Regions from separate parts of the Homo sapiens genome. Here region 1 is linked to region 2. The links come from fine-mapping of genetic effects on gene expression. A gene starts in region 2. The other region holds a variant in brackets. All regions are shown on one strand. Distances are between the middles of the regions.

Evidence for each region.
Region 1: its variant is fine-mapped to the expression of MACC1 in lung (TOPMed, PIP above 0.99).

What each region holds. Positions count from the first base shown.
Region 1 is chr7:20,139,438-20,151,794 of GRCh38, forward strand. It overlaps MACC1 (MET transcriptional regulator MACC1), which reads right to left. Exons shown (of 7, transcript NM_182762.4): 7 at 1-1,721. The coding sequence ends at 1,509. It overlaps MACC1-OT1 (MACC1 3' UTR overlapping transcript 1), which reads right to left and starts at 989. Exons shown (of 6, transcript NR_110114.1): 1 at 880-989. It overlaps MACC1-AS1 (MACC1 antisense RNA 1), which reads left to right and starts at 2,479. Exons shown (of 4, transcript NR_046756.1): 1 at 2,479-2,583; 2 at 7,990-8,100; 3 at 10,998-11,152. The variant T/C (reference allele first, on the strand shown) is at 4,878.
Region 2 is chr7:20,211,158-20,224,201 of GRCh38, forward strand. It overlaps MACC1 (MET transcriptional regulator MACC1), which reads right to left and starts at 6,227. Exons shown (of 7, transcript NM_182762.4): 1 at 6,142-6,227. It overlaps GIRGL (glutamine insufficiency regulator of glutaminase lncRNA), which reads left to right and starts at 6,420. Exons shown (of 4, transcript NR_134569.1): 1 at 6,420-6,465; 2 at 7,099-7,206; 3 at 8,426-8,599; 4 at 10,186-10,543. RefSeq lists enhancers at 6,052-7,251, 8,671-8,820, 8,737-9,266, 8,831-8,960.

The DNA.
Region 1 (12,357 bases), 72 kb before region 2:
TATATCTCGTAGCATCACAGCCTCTCCATTGCAACTGTTAGTATGCATGCCATTTTCTATTTAACGGTGTCATTTTTTAAAATTATCTATTACTTAGCACTACTAAAGTCAGAGTTCATGCTGGTTTTTTCCCATTAGCCTCAAGCATCTATATGCCTGCCAAAAAATAGACACATATACTCTACCTATTGACTGAATGACAATAAATGAATGTCTGTCCAAATACACACATAAACACTGGCAGGCAACCAGAGGATTGAACAGAGGAGTAAGCAAAATACATCTCTTTGTGAACTTTGTCAGCCATTAGCATTTATACTGACCCAGGGTCCTATACAATTTTTGTCCTATATAATCAATTAGGCTGTGCTTTATAAAACACTGTGGTACACACACACACACACACACACACACACACACACACATGTGTTTGCATGAGCATGCCAACATAAAGATATCAGTGTTTTCGGTGGTTAAGACCTCTCTACTCAACAGGGTAATCAAGTTAATCAAGTTTCTGGTGGTGGTGGTTTTTAATAACTCGTATTATTAAAAATCTCCAAGAGCTAAAGAACTATTTTACATTACAATCCTGCAGAAAAAGTCCCAAATTAGGCAGGATTAGAGAGGTCCCAAGATGCTGAAGGGAGCTGATGAAAACACTAGGTCCATGCATGCAGACAACAGATTTCTGATAAGTCATATTTTCCTTCTGTCAGTCTTTCAAGAGACGATGAAAAAGAGTAGCAAGTCTCACTTAAAATGAAACGGCAACTGTTTCCCTGTAAGTCTTAACACGCATTTTGTTTTTACTATTCTGTTATGCAGTATGATTTTTTAAAAAGAAATAGAAACAGGTTTTTCAAGCAGAAAACCTACTTTGTACTGGCTATGTAGCCTCAGACGTTCTCTCCACTTCTGAGTTTCTCCCCATGAAAAATGGGGGTGATGCTGGTGAACCCCACTGATGAACTGAAGAGGTCAGGTGTGGAAAGCGGGCAGCCGTGACTGGCCACAGGGTGTGTGCTTGCTTCCCCTCTTTCTAGCTGCCTCCTGGGAACACTGCCTTGATCATGTTGATAGTCTCTAGTTTACCCAGATATCTGTGTGATGTAATTATTCAAACAGCTTTGACTTAGTAAATTTAAAATAACACTGAAAGAGAGAGAGGGCACTTTTCTTTTTTCTTTCCTTTCTAAGAACAAAGCAGCCTAATACTTGTATTTGAAACATACACAAAAATACATATTTGAGGATAAAACCCATCTTGGTTATCAGTTAGGCTGTGCTTTCATCAGGAAAAAAAAACTGGTTTTGAGCATGAAGAAAATTAATATAATGCTTTTCTGAGATTCTTTCTTTCCTACACACACACACACACACACACAGACACACACACACAGACACACACACACAGACACACAGAGACACACACAGACACACACAGACACACACACACACACACCATTACCTCATTTTCCCTCCCATCAAAAACACACGCTTTGTTTCTATACTTCCTCAGAAGTGGAGAATGCAGTTACTCTCAAAACCTCCAAAGAATTTACTAGTATTAAAACTCCAGTTAATTCTCTCCAGTGTTTAGTCACAGGGTTTTTCATTCTGTCCAAAGCTGACTGAAGGTCTTGTAACACATCTCTGTAGTTATTTCCATAGTGAGCACTCCAGGTATACAGAAAATCATAGGCAGGTTTCCACATCATCTATAAAGAAAAAAAATAGATTGGAGTAGTGTGGAAGTAGAAAGGAGAGGAAAATCGTTTTTAAAAAAAAGATGTAAAAAGCCTCTTAAGATTTAAGATAAAACGGAATACCAATTACACATGGACTTATTTGATGTCATAGAAAATATGGTTTAATAACTATCAGCTTCCTGTTATATCCCTGTGTTTTTAAAACTAGAGATTTTAAAAATAATAACTACAAATAGGGCCTTTTTTCCCTTGATCCATCATCTATACATTGCTGTTGCTTTCATGTGAATATAAAATTCCTTGCACAATTTTTTGATGGTAACAAATGTTATTGAGATAGGCTTTTTACTATTTGAGAGACTTTTAGAGTTAATTATTATTATTATACCTATCTGTGGTGAGTTTTATGACACCAAATAATGTATCAGGAGAGAAATAGTATATTTAACATTTTAAATTATTTTACTCGAGCAAGTCTATAAACAAGCAAAAATCTAGCTTCTTGATCAAGTCAAGATGAAAGCAAAAATATAATTCTCTAATTTAAAATATTTATTTCATGATATATTTTATCATCGAAAGAAAAACCAATACTCAGTGCTGCTTCTTTTTGCTTTTCCTAAGCACCTACCCATACCAATGATGTCATTGTTTCCATAGAAATAAATGTACGTCAAAGAGAAACTTCACATACAAGCATGCATGTAATGGTAACCAAGGCAACCAGGCTAGAGGGAGAATAGAGACAAAGGCAGACCAAATAAGACAAATTGTAGAATACACACACACACGCACACACACACACACGTCACACACACAGCACCTTAAAATGAATTTTCTCTAGGGAAACAACAAAATGAACCCTGCACTTGTAAGTGGAATATTTGAAATATAAACTTTATTATTTGCTTATTTTGGGGGGTTCACTGAACTAATTTGGTTGTGATTCTATCACTTGCAAAATGTAGGAACATAGACTCCGAGCTAAATATCATGCAGAACTGCCCTTTTAAAGTAGAACCTCTATCACAGTTCAGTAATATCACATGAACTAAAGCCTTGGCATATAATTTTCACCATCCTCCAATATCCTCATATAGTCTAATTTTAAAGTTAAAAGAATTAAAGACCTAAATAGGGAGTTCCATTATGTATTTGATTCAATCCACATAAAAGGCTCTAAGGACAATTTAATGTTATTTGTCCAAACTGGCATTCCTGGGAAGCCATGAACAGCCATTTCCTCATCTCTCTCGACAAAGCTTAATTTTGCAAGGTAGAGAATAAAAGACAATTATCAAAGTTATACCATATCAGCATATGGTGCAGCAACAAAAATCATCTCAGATTTTTGTATATAAGTTTTACCCTCACCAACCGGATTAATAATTTTATCTTCTATGTCTGATGGAATGTGAATGAGGCATCTGCTCATCTATATTTCTGAAGATTTACATTGAAATCAAACTTCTCAAAGTACAATTGCCACTAGTTTCTCAACAATGGAATATCAGTTGAGACATAGTAATGGAACCTTTTTTGTCAGACTCAATCTTGGTTGTCGCTGCTCAGTTGCAAAGAATCACTAAACAAATAGATTATTCTGTAGTGGGTATATTCTGTCTGTAAAATCTCTGAGACGTGGACACTACCTTCTATTCACTTAAAAGTCCCTGATGCTCAACGAACTGGTTCAAATTGTCACGTATTTTTTAAAATAATGGTGTTTATAGCTAAAGGCTTCTAAGACTGTTCTAAGTCTGCTAGTGATTGAGTCTGATAAATGATGTATTTGAAGATATTTTATGATAAACAGCAACTTAAAACATTTCTGTAAAAAGGGGATGGCATAGTAGATTAGTGTAAAGCATCGCAGAAAACAGACATCTCAAGAATTATAAAAGGGTAATTTTGGGGTTGTCCACTACACTACAGATTCAAATACTTTTACAGTCAAAAGCAGCCAATATGGCCCCACCTACTTTCATGGGAAGAAAAGCTCTGTATCTATGGCCTATCTTGCGGCAGGACTGTGAATTGCTATGTGTAGAGGAGCCCTTAGGCACACTCAGTCAAGAAGCAGCTTCTCCATGCTGTTGAGGGCAGGAAATACCACAGGTGATGCAAAAAATAGAAACTACAGATTCAGGAAAGGTCCGACGACACATCTACTCATGCACTTACGCAGAGCACCACATAACGTCCTCACATTTGGCAATTTGTTGTTGTTGTTGTTGCTTTGCTTTGTTTTGTTTTGGAGACGGAGTCTGGCTCTGTCGCCCAGGCTGGAGTGCAGTGGTGTGATTTCAGCTCACTGCAACCTCCCACTCCCTGGTTCAAGCAATTCTCCTGCCTCAGCCTCCCAAGTAGCTGGAATTACAGGCACGCGCCACCACGCCCAGCTAATTTTTTTGTATTTTTAGTAGAGACAGGGTTTCACCACCTTGGCCAGGATGGTCTTGATCTCCTGACCTCATGATCCGCCCGCCTCGGACTCGCAAAGTGCTGGGATTACAGGCATGAGCCACCACGCCCAGCCCTACATTTGGCAATTTGTACTAACAACAGAGTAGTGTCGATAGCTCTTGCAAATCAGAGAAATTTGGGTACAATACTGAGTCCTAGGCCCTAATTAAGATTTTTGAAGGTGTAAAGACTTCCCAAGAGTCCCCTGAATTTGTCTGAAATGCAAGGGGGAATATTGCCCTAAACCGATTTGAGACTCCCTGGAGTGTAAGCTGTAATCTGGCTAGAAATGGGTAAAAGAGCATTGGGCTGAAAACAATAGGGCGTTGGTAAACTTTACGATTTACACTAAAATATGAGCATACTCTGTATTCCATTTTTCTTCCTCATTGCAGCAAATTAAACCTGAATATTCCTTTGGTGCAAAAATTCATCTTCTGTGTACAAAATCATTGGTAGCTCTCAACAAAGATGATAGAGAAACACTTTTATAGCATAAATACAATGAAAATATTCAACATTATCATTGTTCATTAACTATTTTGCTTATCAAATCAAGGTTTATTATCTTCCACTACAATAAATTTTGTTACAGTAAGAAAATGATGAATATTGCATGACTCTTGCTTTTAGAAGCTTATAGCGTAGGAAGGAGATAGACACCTGCACAAACACTGGCACAGGGGATGAAATAGGATG[T/C]GATAATTACAGAAAAACTCAAAAATTACTTGCATATTTTAAATCAGTGTGAGAAAAAATGATTGTTGTATTCACTGATGCTATAATGGAAAGAAAGATAGGTTTGGGTGGCAGAGTCCTGTGTCTACATCTGAGTTCTGTTGCCTATTTGATAGGTTAATTTGATAAACTAATCAAGTTATTTCAGCTTGGAATTTTTTTAATCTATAAAATATGGATAATCATTCCCAAATTTTGTGTTCAAAATACCTCATGATGTATCTGGCATATAGTTTGCATTTATACTTCTTAATAGGATAGAGAAGAAAGTACTTATTTTTTTGGCAGGGGCAAGCTAAAGAGCCTATTTTCAGCCCTACTGAATATCAAGCAAAAGGGAGGGTATCTGATAAAAAATTACAGTTGGAATGAGGAGATGACCTTGAGAGGACAGACAAGGGTTTAGCATCACTTGTGCTACAGGGATGGCAAAACACATGAGAGCAGAAGAAAACACCAAGGAAGAGAAAAAAGGGATGCAAAATTTAATTCTCAACTAAGTCAATTATTAGTGGATACAAGAGAGAAATAGACGCAATAAAAGGATGGGGAGAAGCTGGAGTCAAAGAAAAAGAAAGTGAATCACATGCTTCATCTTGCAAAAGCCAAGAAGTATAATAACATCCCAAAAAGGACATGCATTGGCTTGCTGGAGCCAGCTCACACAAGCTCCCTGGATATCCTCCCAACTCCATGTTCCACAACTCCAGTGACACCACAATGGTAGGTTAAAATGATGTACGATCGGAATATTTACACTAAGAACATTAACAAAAGCTATAAGTTTAGATTTTTTCCCTCTGCAGGGTTGGTTGGTAAACATATGCCAGTGTAACACTGAGGACTTCCCTTTTCTGTTACCTCCACTGCTACCTGTAACATCAACAATGTGGGAATATAAAGAAAAACTTGGCAAATCCAGGATTTTGGAAATTAGCAGGACTTTGGTAACTTGGAGAAGGCAGTTTCAAGAGAATAGTCGGGGGCATACGACAGGTACAAACAGGTATCAAAGAAATGGAAGACACCAAACAAATGGGTCACATCTGAAATTTGAGTGTCAAAGGAAGAGAGACAGAACCAGAACAAGCAGCAGTAGAAAATAGAGGTATTTTTAAAAGAAAAACAAATTTAAAAAGTAATATCCTACCAGAACAAGCAGCAGTAGAAAATAGAGGTATTTTAAAAAGAAAAAAAATTTTTAAAGTAATATTCTATGATGGCAAGGGGATTTGGATTTGAATCTTAGCTTTGCCATATGGAGAACTTAAGGTTAATGAGGCTTAAAGAGGTAGCATATATAAAGCACCCAAGAAGAAAGGTTAACTTCCTTTGGCAGAAACATAAATACAAAAGGATGTTAAAATCATTATGGAGTTAGGGCACAAAATTAGAGGGGCAAGTATCATGAGAAATCGAGAAGGAATGAGAACAAAAGCATATGTCAAGACTTATGTACTTAATACACTGATAAAAAATATTAAATTGGGGGAACTATGTTTTCCCTTAATAAGTAAATCTCTAGGCTGGGGGTGGTGGCTCACGCAAGTAATCCCAGCACTTCTTTGGGAGGCTGAGGTGGGTGGATCATGAGGTCAGGAGTTCGAGACCAGCCTGGCCATTATGGTGAAGCCCTGTATCTATTAAAAATACAAAAATTAGTGAGGCGTGGTGGCACGCGCCTGTAGTCCCAGCTGCTTGGGAGGCTGAGGCAGGAGAATCGCTTGAACCCAGGTGGCAGAGGTTGCAGTGAGGCAAGATCATGCCACTGCACTCCAGCCTGGATCTCAAAAAGAAAAAAAAAAAAAAAAAGTAAATCTCTATTTGAGCTTTGCCTTAAAAAAACCTGATTAATCGTCCAGGTCTCTTCAATACAGTAAATAGGCTAATCAGTTGTTTAATTGTCCTTTGTGGAATAGATATATGAACATTTGGACACAAGTTCTAAAGGTACTTTTATTTTTTCTGCATTTTTTATCTCATTTCATTCTGGTTTTCTTAAACAGTAAATACATTTTATCCAAGGCAGAGACATAAGAGGTAATTTGTGTACATTAATTAACAATAAACTCTATGAAATTTGCCCTAAAATATCTACCCAGTAAGGTCACAAAAAATTCTAAATTTTTTAATAAATTACAAAGAAAATGAAGTCATCTTTTCTGGAAATGTTTGAAGGAATAAAATGCGTAGAATAAATAATTTTCTTTCCGGACTGACTAACATTTAATCCTCCGAAGGCTAGAAAGGAGTTGCAGACAGCCAAGATCTCTTCCAGATTTATGTTGTCTTGTATCTATTCTGTGTTTTAAAAATAGTTGTTCCTCTCTTGCTCAATGTTATGATTAGAAAAGATATGCAGAAACTCTACACTTGTGTTTTGAAAAATCTAAAGGAAAGCCCTCTCAGGAGGGCTTGTTTTTTAGTTGTTAAATTATTCTTAACCACAAAAATTATCTCAGCCTTCTCATTTCTATCACAAATATTTAATACATAGGCTGCATTCTTATGCCTCTATTCTTAGATTTTTAATGGTAACTTCATGATGTTGCAGTTTCATTCTTGAATAGGAAGCGTGAGGCTGATAAAAGCACAAAGTTGTTAATTTTCATCTATGTGCTTTTCTTTTTATAAAAAAGGGCAGCAGCGTGAGTAAGTATTTAACATACAAAGTTGAGCAGTTTTCCAAAGTTCAAGCTTTTGTGTGGAAGAAGTGTGTCTTAGGTTATCTTTTCAGTGTTATAGGACAAAATAAAAAGTAATGGAGCAATAAAAAGTAATAAGTGGGATGCCAAAAGAAATGAAATAGGAATAAAGGCAAAACATACATAGTTTTCCAAATTTAGAGTGCTCATTCCCAGAAGCCAATAAGACTCATTAGAAAATGCACTAGAAAATGAAATGCCACATGAGTAGAAGAAATTCAGATTTCAGCATAGCACTGTATGTCTTTTTTTAGCTTATAAAATATGAATAGCATAAAGAATGCAATTGGTTTTAACTACTTTTGGATAATTACATTTTGTCACATTAAAGGATTAGTAATCCACTTACTTCTCCTATAAACTTACAGGAACAACACTTCATTTTCAGTACCATTAGCTGAAGAAGTATTAAGGCAAGGTTGCCTTCTTAATGATTATTTCATGTGTTCTATCCTCAGTACATCATTTACAATATTCAGGTAAGCTTTAACACTTAACATTTAACATTACCTATAATTAGTAAGTACATAAATATTGTTGAAGGTAAGATTGCTGTTGTCTTCAGAAGAGAAGGGAGGCTAACATATCTGGGGGCCCCTATGTCCTCACGAGGGAGATGCTGCTTGGTTAAAACTTGACACAAGATTCCATTGAAAAAGTCTATTTGAGGACAACCAGCTAAATTTGGGTGAGAATAACCACTTGGAACTTCAGGGGTTAAGCATGAGCCAGAGGAAGACAGAGGACCTATTCCTTGCTAGTGCATCTGCTTAAATAGTCTAACATTATAGGAAAACCTGCTGGTTAAGCCATCTTACCAATTCCTAGTTGGGAGGATTCCTCATTGCCTCCTCATCATCACTGCCACCCATGCCCCTGCCAAAAACATATATTCATGGAGACAACTGACACCAATGTTTAAAGAAATTGGGCTCCTTCAATTTAATTTTTCAATGTAAACATTAAAACAAATGAAAAAATACAGTGTCAAGAGCTCTGGATTTAGCGGCACACATCTTGGTTTAAATCTAGACTCTTGGTTTAGTAGCTCCAGGATCTTAGGTAAGCTATCACCTTTCTTTAGGCCCTTGCTTTCCCCTTCTGGCAAATGAGAAAAAAGGTGTACCCAATGCTATAAAAGAATTGCTAAGTATACAAAGGAATGGATGTAAATGTTTTTGGCACACACCAAGTGCTCAATTAATGCTAATTATAGTTGAGTTTAAAGTTAAGAAACAAAATCACAGTCAACTATCCAGGAAAAGAACCCAGGTAACCTTGCTATAAATCTAGGGCCATTTTACTAAAGTATTGCCACAACTTTATTTCATTATTAAGCAGTTCTAACAAATGCTGATTTTGGTCTTACACATAGCTGGATTTTGGTTTTCTGAAATTCCTTATTGTTTATGTTCCCTAGTACTAAAGCTTGAAAAAGAAAACCTAAAGTCAAAATTAAATAGTGTCTTTAAATCCATTTTGAATTTTCTTAATAATGTTTAACTTAATATGCATGTTATTTCTATTTGATTTTCAGTGTATAATATAGAATTAAGTCAAAGATCATAGGAATACAATGTGTTACCCCAGAAATTTCACTGTGCTATCTTTGTTTTCTTTCCTACCTCATTCCTCCCAAAATGGAGTATCTTTTTGAAATTAAAGTTTGTAACAAGTATAGAATTGTACAAAGTAGACATGGTAATCTAAATTGTACAAAGTAGACAATGGTAATCTAAATAACATCACTGTGCCAAATCTCTAGTTCAAACAATGGAGATTTGAGATATCATTCTATACATTTTACAACTGGTATGTGAATTTCCATATAATACTTTTCCCTTCTCTAAGAAATTATAAATATATTTCTCATTTCAAAAGAACAGCAAACAAAAGAATTAAGTACCAAGGCTAGAACTGAACCAGGCCCTGATACAGACCTTGATAATTCAACATCCCTGTAAGCAGAATCCAGAAGTTGCCATGTAAGCCAGAAAACCATACAGCCCAAGGACATTTCTTTTAACTTTTGCGAGAGATAATTTCCAAGGAAAATTAAATGTTGTTAAGCCCATAAGAAATAAGCTGATCAGCCAAGACTTTATCTCATTTTTTTCCATGCATTGCTATTCTGCCAGTTTCTCAGATGAGAAACCTTGAAATAACTGCTAACTTTTTCCTTACATTCTTCCTATAGGCACTCTCAGTCACATTACTAAAAAAACAGTGTATTTTATTCTATTTTCCAAAAATTACTCAAAGTTATATAGTTATCAAATTCACCTTTTCCTCTTCCTCTTCATTAAAATAATAAATAATATGTATTTAGTGATTACAATATGCAAAACATTGTCCCAAATATTACACATTTATTATCTCATTTGATCTTCTAAACATCCAGTGAGTAAGATAGTATTATTCTCCTTACTTCACAGACACACAAAATAGATTCCCAGAAAAGTAAAGTAATTTGCCCAAGGCTTGAGGGCTGATAGATGGTAGAGGTGGAACAGAAGTCCAGCCAAGAATCTTAACCTCTATGCTCTGGTAGTCACTGAAGACTCCCCTCCATTGATACCAACATATGTACCTGACCACATCACCCAGTAATTAGTAAGGTGAACTCTCCCCTCCAGGCCACATCTTCTCAGTGGTCCCTAGAGCTCACTGATATTTAGAAGCACTGAAGTCTACTTCTATTCCTCTCCAATTACTCAAAGGCCACCCATCCTTCAAAGCTAGCATGTCTCCTAATTACTCCTCACCACTTTGATATTTTTTAAGTAAGTTAAATTTGAAAGGGCTTATCATTAGTATAATACAGTGGTTAGGACTTTATATAAGACAACGTGAATTCAGATCTAAGTACTTGCCCTTAATAGCCATGTAACTGGATAAATTACACAAATACATTCACCTTCAGTTTGTATATATGTAAAGAGCAGATGGCTATAATGTTTTCCTTACAAAGTATATTGAAATAATAGAGATACTGTAAAGAAAATGCTCATAATGACTAGCTGACAATGAACATTTGGTAAGTTACAACTATTAACATTGTCATCTAGTCCTATACTTTTAAGAAATATTATAACAATTCAAATATTAACAGTTTATCCCAATTCCCAGGCCAAAGTAAAACCTGGTTTTTAAGGAAAAAATAATCATATTGTGTGTTTTTTACGGCTCCTAAACCAATGTCCAGAACTGATAGACCCAGAATAAGCGTTAAGTATATGGATGAATTAAATACTGAAGGCTAGGACACAGATATAAGATACTAAATAAGTGGAAAGAATTCCATGTGGAATTCATTCACTTATAGAAAATGACTAAAACTTCTTGAAAATCAACAACTTTCTTATCTTTAATCTAGACTTGGAACAAAGTACTTTGAACTCTCCAGCGGCCAGTCAGAAAATGAGGAACAGGTTGTGAATAGAAGATACAAAGGAGTATTAGATCTGCATTGATTAAATGGTGACTACAAATAGACTTAAAATACATCTTCCCAATTATGAATCTCTACAGGTGAGTAATTTCCGAGACGAAAAAAAATTACCATTAGGAACATTGACTTCGCTGGCTTCCATTGGGAGAGTGGCCCATTCTGGCAGGTCAGATAAGAAACTATTATCAACAGGACTATTGGTGCCTGTGGCTGAGGTAGAGCCCAGTGGGCAAAGGTAATTGAAGAAAGGAAGTGAGGCCAGAGTGGTGGCTCACACCTGTAATGCCAGCAATTTGGGAGGCCGAGGTGAGTGGATCACCTGAGGTCAGGAGTTCGAGACCAGCCTGGCCAACATGGTGAAACACCCATCTCTACTAAAAATACAAAAATCAGGCAGGTATGGTGGCATGCGCCTGTAATCCCAGCTACTTGGGAGGCTGAGGCAGGAGAATCTCTTGAACCTGGGAGGTGGAGGTTACAGAGAGCTGAGATTGTGCCATTGCACTCCAGCCTGGGTGACAGAGCCAGACACTGTCTCAAAGGAGAAAAAAAAAAAAAAAAGAAAGGAAGTGAAACTTTAGTGTCCTTGGTGAATATGTGTCCTTATTAAACAAGATAAAAATGGCATAATCTATATTGTTAAGCAAGGGGGCCAATGAGGGAGCCATAGAAAAAGTATTGTCATTTGTGGTAACCATCCCTAGAAGGCTAAGTGAAGAGCACCCAATTTAGGCCAGTGAATTTCTTATCTCTGAATCCCCAGCATGTCCCCTTGTAAAATTCAACATTTAAAAAGTGAGCTATTTTTCTAATATGCTATTGATTCCTTTTTTAAAAAATTAAAACTCTAAATATATTCAGAAAATGCCAATAAATTTTCACTAACTTTCACGGAAGAACCTTGGCAATAGTGACATCTTTGTATAGTGTAAGTGCATTTTTTCTGAAAGAAATACTCTGAAAAACATACTTTGCTTATTATCAGATTCCAAGCTTTACAGCTTTGCTTTTATGTAGTAATTACCATGTCATTAGAAAAGTCGAGTAACATTTCTTAAAATTTAACTTGAGGAGATGGTTAATTTCAAAAGTGACATTCTCAAAAGTTTCCAAAGAGAGGCTTTTTCTTCACCTTAGAAAAAATTAAGAAATGGTTAAGGTGTTCAGAAAATCTGACAAATTTATTATTAATATACTTCATTTTTTAACCAGCTTGAGGCTTGGTAAAGATTTAATTTTGAGGCAATTTTTGATAGTATCATGGCTACTTGACATGGCCTGAAAA
Region 2 (13,044 bases):
GAATAGACTAACAATCTCTATTTACTAACTATTAACATAAGGATTCCTGGGAATCAGTTTCTTCATCTCTAAAAGAGGTATAATAGCATTATCTGCTCCTCCTCAAAATTAATTAAATAATATAATATAATTAATGTGTTTGGCATATAGTAAGTACTCAGTTGGTACTAATAGTTACTATCAATATTATCATTATCATTATTGTGATTAATATGATTAATACTAAAGTAAGTGCCTGTTAAATGGAAAAGTCATATGAATAATACTAAAGTTAATACCTGTGGAAAAGTCAGTCAATCTCTAACGCCATAGGTTGAGAAACGGAGAGGTTGATTTCAGATCAAATTTTGCACCATATTTTAGAAATGGGAGTGTTCCAAACATATCTGAGTCTCCCAGATGCCACAAGCTTCTGGCTTTCAGTGACATCTGGAAAGGTTATTTGATTAGAACATTTGAGATAAACAAGTATGTTTAGAATAGAAACAGGAACTCCTATTTTGGCTGGGAATATAATGTGTTATAAATGTTTTGGAAAGCAATTTCTCAATATCTCATAAAGTTGAAGGTACACATGCCCACGGTTCAGCAAATCAGTTTCTGCAAATATTCACTAGAGTAATTCTTTCATTTGGACACAAATAGGAATGTACTATAATATTTTATAGTACTACTTATGATAGCAAAATGCCATACAGCCATGAAAATAAGTTGTGCTGTAAGAATAGACATGGATTAATCTTAAAAGTATAATGTAGAGAGAAAAGAGCAAGTTGCAGATGAATAATGTATACTTTATTGTTTCCACAAAATTTTCAAACATTCAAAACAATCTTATAGACTGTTGTTTATGGATATCTTCACATACACAGCAGTGGAAAGAATAAAAGCATTTAAAAAAGAAAAGAATAAAAACATACACTGCAGTGATATCGACAAAGATAGGATAGTGGTAACCTTTGAGGGTGAAAAGAGAATAGGATTAAGCAGGGTACTTTTTTATCTTTAATATTTTATTTCTTAAACTGGGAGGTGAGTACATAAGTCTTTGCAATATCTATCTTTAAATGTCTACTACATATTACATGTATTGGGGAAATATCTAAATTAGGTGTCTTCCCAGTGGAAATAGAAAACATACAAAACTCTTCTACCATTCCTGGAAATTAAACCTGATGTCTGTTCTGGCTGGAGATGAAGATGTTTCTGTTTATTCCAAGGAAGGCCCCTATAAAGAAGCCTCTTATCTCTGGGCAAGGTGGTGGCCACAGTAACCAAGAGAAAACAAAACCTGGGAGGAAAGAGTCAGCATGCCCTTCCTCTGCCTTCCCATCCCTGAGTACCTGAAGAATCTCTCTTCAGCTCTCTTCTCCTGGAAACTTGAGTGGGGCAGGAGGAAAAGCGGAGCTAGGTGTCATTTTAATGAGGAACATACTTGTCTCCTCCATTTATCTGGCCCTCCCTGATGGCACTCCAGAATTCCAATCCCACATGATTAACAACATAGTTTCCCTTTTCTGCTTGAAGGTCCATTCTCCTCTCAATTTCAAATCACCTGAGATACAAAGCTGCATTTCCCCACAAGAACCAGTTCCCTCTCCTTTCCTTCAGTGCTACTGTCCTTCTCTCAGACCACCAAGCTTAAAAACTCCAGAGGCTCAAACAGCAAAGATGGCAGCCCGCTCCTCCCTCTGGGAGTTCTGGCCCAGGGAGTTTTCAAATTTCTGTAGGCGGAAGAATACTAGCGGGAGTGGCTGGAGACCCCATTTGGTAGGTTCCACCTAGTAAAAAGAAATGAGATCAGGGACTGGCTTAAAGAAGCTGTATGGTCATGTTTTCGTAGAGCAGCTGTTCTGTGCTGGGATACCACTTCCACCTTGGTCGACTTGACATTTCCAAAGCCCACAGGCTGGAATAATTAAGATGTGGAAAATGCAAAGATGGTGGCCCACCCTTCCCTTTGGAAGCTCTCTTTTCAAAAGAAGACATACATGTGGCTACCAATCATATGAAAAAAAGCTCAACATCACTGATCATTAAAGAAATACAAATCAAAACCACAATGAGATATCATCTAACACCAGTCCGAATGGCTGTTACTAAAAAGTCAAAAAATAACAGATGCTGGTGAGGTCGTAGAGAAAAAGGAACGCTTATATGCCATTGGTGAGAGTGTAAATTAGTTCAGCCATTGTGGAAGACAGTCTGGCAATTCCTCAAAGACCTAAAGACACAAATACCATTTTATCCAGCAATCCCATTACTGGGTATATAACCAAAGGAATATGAATCATCCTATTATGAAGACATATGCACACATATGATCATTGCAGCACTATTCACAATGGCAAAGACATGGAATCTATCTAAATGCCCATAATGATGGACTGGATAAAGAAAATGTGGTACATATACACCATGGAATACTACATAGCCATAAAAAAGAACAAGATCATGTATTTTGCAGGGACATGGATGGGGCTGGAGGCTATCATAAACAGAAAACCAAATACTGCATGTTCTTATTTATGAGTGAGAGTTAAATGATGAGAACACATGGACACATAAAGGGGAACAACACACACCGAGGCCAATTGAAGGGTGGAGGGTGGGAGGAGGCAGAGGGTCAAGATAAATAACTTGGGTACTAGGCTTAATACCTGGGTGATGAAATAATCTGTACAACGAAGCCCCATGACATAAGTTTACCTATGTAACAAACCTACATATGTACCCCTGTACATAAAATAAAAGTTAAAAATAAAATAAATAAAAACTCAAGAGCAGCTTGGCTGTCACTATAATTATTATTATTCAGTTTTCTTTTTTATTGAATTACTCCTTCATCCTCTGCTTCTTTTCCATTTTAATTCCTACCACTCTTCATTTATTCATGTTCAGCTTATTGAAACCTATTTCCAAAGAGCTCTCCTGGTGTCATATTCCCTATGCTCCAATCCTCCTGCACACTATGCCCAGGAGGAACCCGCTAAAGTATGGATTTCCACAGTTGGCTCCTGGTCAGAACCATTTTGAGCCCCCTGTTATCCAGCCGCTGAAGAATAAATCCCTTTAAAGCTTCCACAACCAACCTTATTCCAGCATTATCATCCAAAATCCCCTAGAATACCCTCCATGGAATACCCAGTATCCCTCCTTTCTTTCCAGCTACACATAAAAACAGCCCATTCAATTTCACTTCCTAATTCTTGTGCTTGATATTCCCCCTACTTCAGTGTTTCCCAAACTTCACTCATTCTGGTACCTCATCATGATTTTTCCACTACCAATTGCCACCTGAACTACTTTTTACTTAATATTTCCTGTAAATTCACTCTTATTTTAAGTAAGACAAATATTTGAAAGGTTAATGTCTATTAGTACCATAAATGAAAAAAGCTGATATCTATTGTAATAAATAGGCAATAACTATATATAAATGTTATTTTAAAGCAGTAATTAAATTAAACTAAGTACTTTTTGCCTACTAACATTTATTGCTTATTCTGTGAGTGTTATAAAGGAAGCTTAAACAAGTGTTTGGAGAAGTTTAAGTCATATCAAAAACAACAAAACTTATTTCTGAAGAATTGAAACTAAGTCAAAAAATATAACTTTCTCAATCTGTAATCTTAATGTTATTGTTATTGATTGATCAGTCCATATGTTTCCGAAAATCATTTAATGTGCGAAAGTTTGGAAAACACTGCTGTACGTGAGATACTTTCATGACCTTTTCCTGCCCATCTCAACTCTGCACATTTTTCCAGGCCTGCTTAAAGTTCCACCACCTCCCACAATGTCCTCTTGAAATTCAGGGCACTGTGACTGCCCCTTCCTCTGGCAGCCTGGGTACGCGTCTCTTCTGTGTTTTAGGAAGTCACTCCACTCTGCTTCTGAATGACTCATATACATCTCAAGTTTATTTATTTATTTATTTATTTATTTATTTATTTATTTGGTCTCCAGTAATTATAGTTGAAAGAAAGGTTTTTGAAGGTGTCTTTTTAATCCCCTGATACTGAGCATCACACTTTCTGTGGAGTGACTCTATGAACAGCATGAATGACTAATGAATTAGCACTTACTCTCTTTAACTATTTATGAGGTCATATCTCTGCTAGTAGATAAGGATCCCCTCAAGGGCTGTGCATGAGTTTCTTCTAGCCTCTAAACCCAGCCCAGGGGGAGTATATTGCAGGATTGCTAGAAATCTTTGTCAATTGAATGAATGACACTTCCTAGAGACACTACACCATAGACGGCACTTGACAACAACAAAAAAAGCCACCCTTTTAGAAGTATACAGTGTTCAGTGCCTCTGCAGCTTTCCTCCACCTTTGGAGAATTACAAGTTTCATTCTAATTCTATCCTGGACTTGCTGACATAGGGTTTACATTTATTAATATATGGCATATCACATGTAAAACTCTGCACAGTCATCTGAAATGCTGGTTGTTATCACCTTCACTTATCACCAAATGCCATAAGGGATGTTTAGTCTTAATAGACACCTAGGCATATGTGTGGTCTTTCAAGAAAGAATTCTCTAAAAATTCAACAGACATGTCTTCAAGTTCAAAATTAGTATAATTCCAAAATGTCTTTTGTCCTCCAAATCAGCCAATACATTTTAAGATAAGATGGTGTTTAACAAACTTTGCCTTAATAGTTTTTATTATCTCTAAAACACAAACAGATAAAAATATTCTATTTGTAAATTAGCTACAAGGAAGTTGAGAAAACTGGAATAAATAATATTTTTGCTTTAAGTTTTAAAAATGAGTCATAACTAAAGCTTTTAAGCAAATTGTAACTAATAATTATGACTTCATAATTTCTAGATTCTGTACACTACCCATGAAATCATATTAAAAATCGCTATTATGAATAAAAGATAATCATGTAATTAAGTTCAGGGGGGCATAAAAGAATCACCACTGAGGTTAAGACAACTTTAAGAATATACCTGAAATTCATCATTATCACCCAGTAATTGCTATGTAAAAACCAGACATTAACATAGATAAGTCAATATCAATCCTAAATTAGACCCACTGAATATAGACTTAAGACATTTTTAGGAAATTAGGAAGACCTTTAATAAATGGAAGGCATTGGAATTTTCACTACATGCTTTTTGATCTTAAAAATAAATTTTTTAAAATCTATCTTTATTAATTGTGGTAAAAAACTTAACATACAATTTACCATCCTAACCATTTGTAAGTGTTTACACTTACAAATTTTAAGTTCAATAGTATTAAATATATTTACATTATTGTACAGTCTCCAAGTGTTTTCATCTTGTAAACTGAAACTCTATATCCATTAAACAACTCTCATTTCTCCTTCCCCCAAGCCCCTGGCAACTACCATTCTAAGTATCATTTATGTGAGTTTGACTACTCCAGATACCTCAGGTAAGTTGAATCATCCAGTATTTGTCTTTTTGTTTCTTTGGTGTGTTTTCCAAGCTTAATTGAAACTTAATTAGGATGAAGCCAAGTTACCCTCCATCATGTATCATCTGTCTATTCAGTACAATGCACTGTGCTAATTTAATGACCCCCTTAACTTAATTACATGATTATCTTTTATTCATAATTTAATGCTATTAACCTAATGAGGTAGGTTATGCACACACACTTTACAGATGAGGAAACTGAGACTTTGCGAGGTGAAACATCTTGTCAATGGTCATAAATCTAATAAGCAGTGGGGCTGCTGATTGCAACTTTATCTATCTTCAAAGCACAGTCTTTTTAACATACCTGTATGCTTTTTGAGATATTTAAAGTTTTTAGGGGATTTCAGCCATCTACATATTTTAAGCAACTCATAGAGTGTTTTGTTTTTGCCTTTGATGGTTAATGTGACCTGGGTTCCTCCTTTTTTTTAAAATAAACTACTTTATTCTAAACCATGTCTCAAGGTATTATTCTATTCTATGTCATGAGGTTTATTCTAACACATGTCCCATAAGCCCACAGAATACCAGTTACCTTCCCTTTATTTAAGCAGGGCTTGATTTGTTAAGCAGCTGGTTTGTTACATTTTTCTGGAAATTATACAACTTCCTAGTGTGTAGCACATATCAATAGTGAAAGGAATATTATTTTTAAAAAATCAGCACTTACATTTGTGGAAGTGAGCCCAAGCTTCTTCAGTTCAGACACATGGTTTTAGTGAATAGAAGTCACTCTACCAAACCCGGGTACTCTTCAAACATGCCTTGCTCCGTATGCAGGCAGGCAACTGCACCCCTGCTTCCTGAGCCACCTGGGACTTGAAGTTCTACCACTGTGGCTCCAAAGCTGCCCAACTAGAAACCCCAAAAGGCAAGAGAACTACGATACCCACAATTCAGGCTCCTCACCCGAAACCAGAAGAGGGCGTATGGCTAGAGTTTCACCCTAAGAAGAAAGGGGAAGCAGGTGGAAAAGCAATTAAAAAAAAATCAGGTGAGTATATCTAAGAACCATCTGTAAATATAATCTTATTTCCATGAAAGGAAATAAAAGTGGTTTAATGTTTGCCAGGGAGTAAGAAGGCACCCTCAGTGTTAGCAATAAGTAAAAAATATTTATGCAAGCAAATCCTCATGCAGCTGGAACTTGCCCCACCAGATTCTCTTTCGGTGATTCAGAGCTGAAGGTGCCTCACTGCCCTGTGGAACAGGTGAATAAAGCCTTCCCAGGTGAGTGACAGTGTCTAACTAGTTCCCCCTTTCCCTCTACATCAGCACTGTGATTGTCACTCAAAGACATAGACATATAGACATAATGGAGACCTTTTGGCATTTCATCTTCTAAAATGCTCTGGATTTTTAAGATAACACTTTAAAATGTGCCTTTTAAAATATAAGCAAGAATAAAGTTTTCTTGATATTTTCTTCCATTTTACTTTCCATTTCTGTGTTTTGTGTTTTCCTTCTGTGTATTTTGTTCAAAATTCAAGAAAGAGAAAATTAGGGGAAAGGGGAAAAAAGGTAAAACTTAGTGAAATGAAATGTGCAATAATTGTTTCACATTTTTTTCCAACATCAGCAACAGAGAATGTTTAAAACAAATGTGTTTCTCTATTTGTTCATACAGCATCTCTCTCTAGCCTATTATCTCCTGTTAGACACAGCCCAGAAAATGAATAGAGACAAGTCCTGGCTGGGTCTGGGTTCAGAAACATAATAGAAGGATTCATCTAATGTAAGTAGATGGCAGAATGGTGACAAAGAAAAAGTTTCCTTTCCCTTTTCTGCACTTTCTCTCCTACTGTTCTAACCACCCCTTCCTCCCTGATGCATCCCTGGCTTCATGCTGCCAGATCACCTAATCCACCCAGATTCCCTTTGAAGTTTCCCCTTGACTCATCCCACAATCCAAACTGAGCTGTTCTGTTTCTTTTTGTCACAGGTTCCTCAACTCTCTACTAGAACCTAGCTTTCCTTTATGTCATTATATTATTTCCAAAACAAATGGTTCTTAATTTCCCCAAACCCTACAGAGGGCATTCTGCATGGCATTTCTCCTCCCTGAAACCATTTTTGCTCATCTTGAAATGTTCAGAGATTTCATTTTTTCCAAAGCTCAATGAAAAACACTCTTCAAGATGTCCTTCTCAGTTTGTCTTAATCTGAGTTATTCTCTTCCTCCTAATCAATTTCATAATATTGCATCTGCTCCTCTCATAACACATTGTATATCTCATTTCATTGGTTTACATGGGTGTGTGTGTACCTATGCAGTCTTACATTCCTATTTGAAGGCAAGGCCTCATTGTATCCCTACTTCATTAACTCATTAATGTACAAGTAGATGTTTGTGATAAACAATCAACACATAAAATAACTGAGATGTTAACTCTAAGGTGTGTGTGTGTTAATGCCTAATGCCATCTTTATGTCTCCCGGAAAACATTTACATTTAAAAAGCTACCTAAATGCCATGCATGAGTACTGTTATCAGAATCCCCCTGCAGTCTGGTCTGGTGTGGCTCCCACAGCCTTTATTTGCAGAAAGGCAAAGCATTAAATCTAGCAATTGAACCCTTGACAGTACCCGAAATGAAAGCCCTAGTGGGTCAGCACTCACTGTTTACCAGCTCCAATCCCTGCTGTGCACTTGCCTTTCTAACAGCTCCCCAAGGACTGGGCTCCCTAGAGTCCTCAGTCCCATGGTCCTGGAAACCTGGCCCTACCTCTATCTATGATTTTTGATTATCAGCTCCAGCATTTATGGATCCCTTCTCCTATTATCTAATCTACGGGCTCTAAAGATTAAACTGTGCACTTTGGACTATTTAAATAGTTCTTAACCACTGATCTCCTCCCTCAGGGAAGGGAATTCTTTCCACAGTTGCTAGTTCCTCACACCTCTGCCTCTATGGGATTCTCCTGGTCCCCACATGCTCTGCTGTGTCTTCTAGCTGTCGGCCACTGTGGAGGAAGTGAACCTTCTAGATCCTGCTGACTCATACAATGAGTTTTGTGTGGACCATCAGACAAAAGGGCTGGCTGGTGAAGGTGGCTGTTGTCTGGAAATTCCTCCCAGCTCTCCTCTAATTATGTCATAAGGACTGGAGGCCCCTTAGCCTGCTTGTGTGAGTATCACCAGCTATGTAAAGTTGGGGCCTTAGCTCATCCTCAGCACATGGCTCAGGATCACTTCCTTAAGAAAGTCTCTTCTGACCTCCTTACCCCTACCATGTTTCTTGTACTGACTTACGCAATGGTCACAACCAACATAGAAGCTGAAATCCCAATGACTCACTGTCCCAGCTGCGCTTGTAGATAAGGGAGAGGCAAAGCACTTAGAATGGCAATCAGACATGGCTATCTGGGACCAGGAATTAGGAACTGCTGACACAAAGAAGCAGGGACAGAAGAGAACTCACTCTTGTGGTGAGCAGAGGCAGCTGTGCAAACAACCTGCTGTTCCGGATGTGACTGTGGTGGCCGTGGGGTGCAGAGTCCAGGGCTCATGGCGTTGGTCATGCAAATTGTGGTTCCTGGGCCTTAGCAGAAACAAGGAACCTATTCAGTGGCATTGCTTTGGGGGCTGCTCTGGCTTCGTAAGCTGTGTGCCTGATTCTTAAGCCCCTCCCAGCAATTCTGGGACTGAAGTTTGGTGTGTTGCTCTTCGGTTTAGATCTGCCACAGTCATTTGCTGTTGCTTGAAGCTAAAAACTCTGAGTGATACGAACCTCTCACACAACTCTTACCACGTTGTCACTACCTACCCCAGTATATTTAGATTCCATCAGATCAAGTACTGGATTTTATTTATCTCTAAATATCCTAAATCTCCACAGTGCCTGGAGTACATGTATATATATTTGACCTACATTAAACTGGTCAATAAAATGAGGAAGTCTTGCTTAAAGTTCCTTCTAACTTAAAATTTGCCTGACCACATGGAAGCTGTCAGGTTGCTCATTAATGCAGAGGTAATTTTTTTCTCTTAACTAGGGTTAGAATTTAGACTCTACCCCTTCTCTGTATCTCAGAGGGAGCAGAACTAGTGGTTTCCTACACTGGAGAGGGAACTCAAGCACACAAGCTATTGCTTATTGTTATTTAATAATCAAAAGGATTTTTGTTTCCTTTTTTCTTTTTTTTTTTTGTATCCTTCAGTGACCTATGTCGTATGTTAAAGTCACTCATGTTTGGCCCCTGTAGTACAAATATACCAGAAAGAGTGATAGGAAACAGCATATTCCCCCCTTGTTCAGATTTTTCTTAGTATGACATTATCTTGGAAAGAGAAAGGCCACATTTGCAAGTTTGGAAGAAAGTTCCCCCTGGAGTTTTTTCTCTGTCCTATTTCAGTATGTATTGACTCTCAGAACCCGGGCTGCTATGACATCCGTTTTCTGGGTCACTTTGTCCCTGAGTCATTATCATCCTGTAACTTTCTGAAAACATTTGACTATGCCATTTACCAGTTAATTTCAGTGAATAGCTGAAATCATAGTAAAATGTTAGGGCCAGAGTAAATTTAGGTCAGATTGATTTTATTGCCCCAGATTAAGAAAGTGAGCCAAGTTGTTGTTAACAATTTCATAGTTTCCTTCATCACATCTTTTCGGAGCCTTACTCAACCATAAGATGAATCATCCATAAAATGACCCCCACAAAGCTGTGGTTTACATGTTCATCACTCTTTTCTGTCATTTGTTGCTTTCAGGATAACACGCAAGGAAATATGGGCCAACTCTTCACATGAACACAAGATATTTCCATGCTAGCCTTTTGCAAGTAACAACAGAGAGAGCTCTGTGCAGTTTTCACTGGAATGCCTGTGGATTGCTTGTGTCATAACTGTAATCTAAAGAGTTGTCCATTTGTTGATTCCTTTGTATTTGTATTGGTAGAATTGCCACTATCAAACCAAGATCTTTAGCTGCCTTTGTATCAACTTCTTTGGAGCTTATGTGATTTTCCAGAAAATTTCCAAGGCATAGTTTTGTCCCTAAGTCCCATGAATATGTAATATTTTGTGTCTCTCTATTAAAATAGCACTTTTTGTGCATTCCATTAACAAATATATGTGTATGTGTCTGTGTGTGGACAAACATATCAATTACTTCACCCACTTTAGTGGGAAAAATAATTTACTCTGAGTTTCTGGAATACCAGATAGTGAGTAAGTTCTTTGAGAATGGAATATCGATGTTTAATTATATTCTATAAACCCAAGACAAGGGGGTGGCAGATATTCCTAATTCATTTTCCAATATGTTTAGATAATAGGCTTCATTATATATATATGTAAATATCTTGCACATTTTTAAATTTTGCACAAGAAAATGCAAAACTTTTAAAAAATATTAACATCTATTCACCTACTGTTACGTTCTGTGGACATCATTAGTGGGATTTTACGAGTAGATAAATTTTTCTGACAATTGGAAACTCTGTCAGAAAGAAGCAGTACATTTTATATCCTGGGAATATTGTCTCTTATTTTTTATGTACCTAATAAGTATTATGCCACAGTGAGCTCTATTCTCTAACTTGAGATTAAAAGGTTGAACACAGAGACACAGATAGGTTCACTGACAAGGGGCCAAATCCCAGTGTTCTCTGACATAGAAGAGGAATGCTTTAAGTTACCCATCCAATACCCCATTAGAATTTCCACCTCGGATGTTGGAGTCTACATGAGGCTGGCTTCTTATAGTTTCACACATTCTTCTGGTGCTAACATGTTCCTTCTAACTGTATTCGCTTTCAATTGCTGGTGCAACAAATTACCACACATTTGGTAGTTTAAACCACACGAACTTAACGTCTTACAAGTTTGGCAGTCAGGAGGCTGCTACAAGTCTCACTGGGCTAAATTCTAGGTGTCAGCAGGACCACATTTCTTTCTTTCTGGAGGTTTTAGGGGGACAATCCATCCCCTTGCCTTTTCCAACTTCTAGAGGCCACCCACATTTCTGGGGGCAGATCTCTTTTTCCCTCTTCAAAGCCAGCAGCTTCAGGCTGAGTGCTCTTTTGCCGCATCTCTGATCCTTCCGTCATCACATCTCTCTCACTGACTACAGCCAGGAAAGCTTCTCTGCTTTGAAGGACTCATTATTACATTGAGGCCACCCGGATAATCTGGATCAGCCCCTTCCCACCCACCATCTCAAGGTACAGACCCTTAATCACAATAGCAAAATTCCTTTTGCCATGTCAGGTAACATATTTACATATACCAGGGATTGGGGCAAGGACATTTTGGAGGGGCCATTGTTCATCTACCATACAGAATTAATTTATTTATTCATTAATGTTCCAATAATTGATTGTTTATAAGGAGCCAAGAACTACTTATTAGTCAAAATTTGCCTAACACTTTAAGCAATTCTCAGGAATTTCCTCAGGAAATTCTCCATGTAACATTCTAGGTTGGAGTTGAGTCCTGTATAGGCTACCCATTGGGGAAAAGAGACAGTCTCTTGATTTACTACAGGACCTGTGTTAGAAGAAGATGTATGATTGAAGAAGCATAAAGAAAGGCATGGTGTCCCCAAAACATCACCTGCCTCTGGGCTGTCACCTATTATTTTATTGTGATAAACAGATGATTCAGCTTCAAACATGGTTTGCTCTCAAGAACAATTAAATTAAATTAGTTAAACAAGATGGCATTAAAACAGAAATACAACTTAGAGGGATTGCCATGGCAAGGATTCATCAATTGACATTTTGGCAAGGGTAAGTTTATGAACAGGGCTGAGTGGGGAAGGATAAGGGGAGAACTAAACGGAGGGATATTTATTTGCAGAAATAAATGCAGGAATCTGCTTGCATCAGAAAGAATTGCCTCTCACACAAGTGGTTCCTTTCTCCTGAAAGAACTGAGCCATGGATCCAATTTTCCTTGCCCGGTACTATATGACTCCATTGCCCTGACTCACCACAGATGACTGACCACAGATCACTGGGTGGAAAATTGATGTTCAAACCAAAACTGACCATCTGCAACTAGATCAGGATTTTTAAAATTGTATTGAAAGTAACGGCAAAAACCGCAATCGCTTTTGCACCAACCTAATATATTTGGCTAGTTTGTGGGTCATTAATCAATTTATCAACATTTTTAAGTGAAATAGAATAAATTGAAATAGAATGGAACTGAATAGATGAAATGAATAGAGTACAATAGAATAAATCAGAATACATCGAACTAAAAAGGGTCAGTGTTGTTTCATGAACTGTTCATTCTAATGTGTATGTGAGTGTATGTGTGTGTGTGGTGTGTGTGTCTTTGAGTGTTGAGTTCAATATAAAGTGGTTTCCTTTCTGTAGGCAAATTTGAAAACTATGCAGTTAGATAGTGGGCTTATAAAATAATCTAGCATGAAAGCTATGTCTTATTAGAATATTTTTACATGGGATAGTAACCAACTAACTAACCAATCAAATTTTCTTTCTTTGGCATGCAAGCAGAAAACTTCAAGTAGAGGTACAAACTCTGGAGTATTGCAAAACCAGGATAAGCACCACAACAAGACAGAAAGCAGAAACTACAAACTAGTCAAAAGTTTGCTGT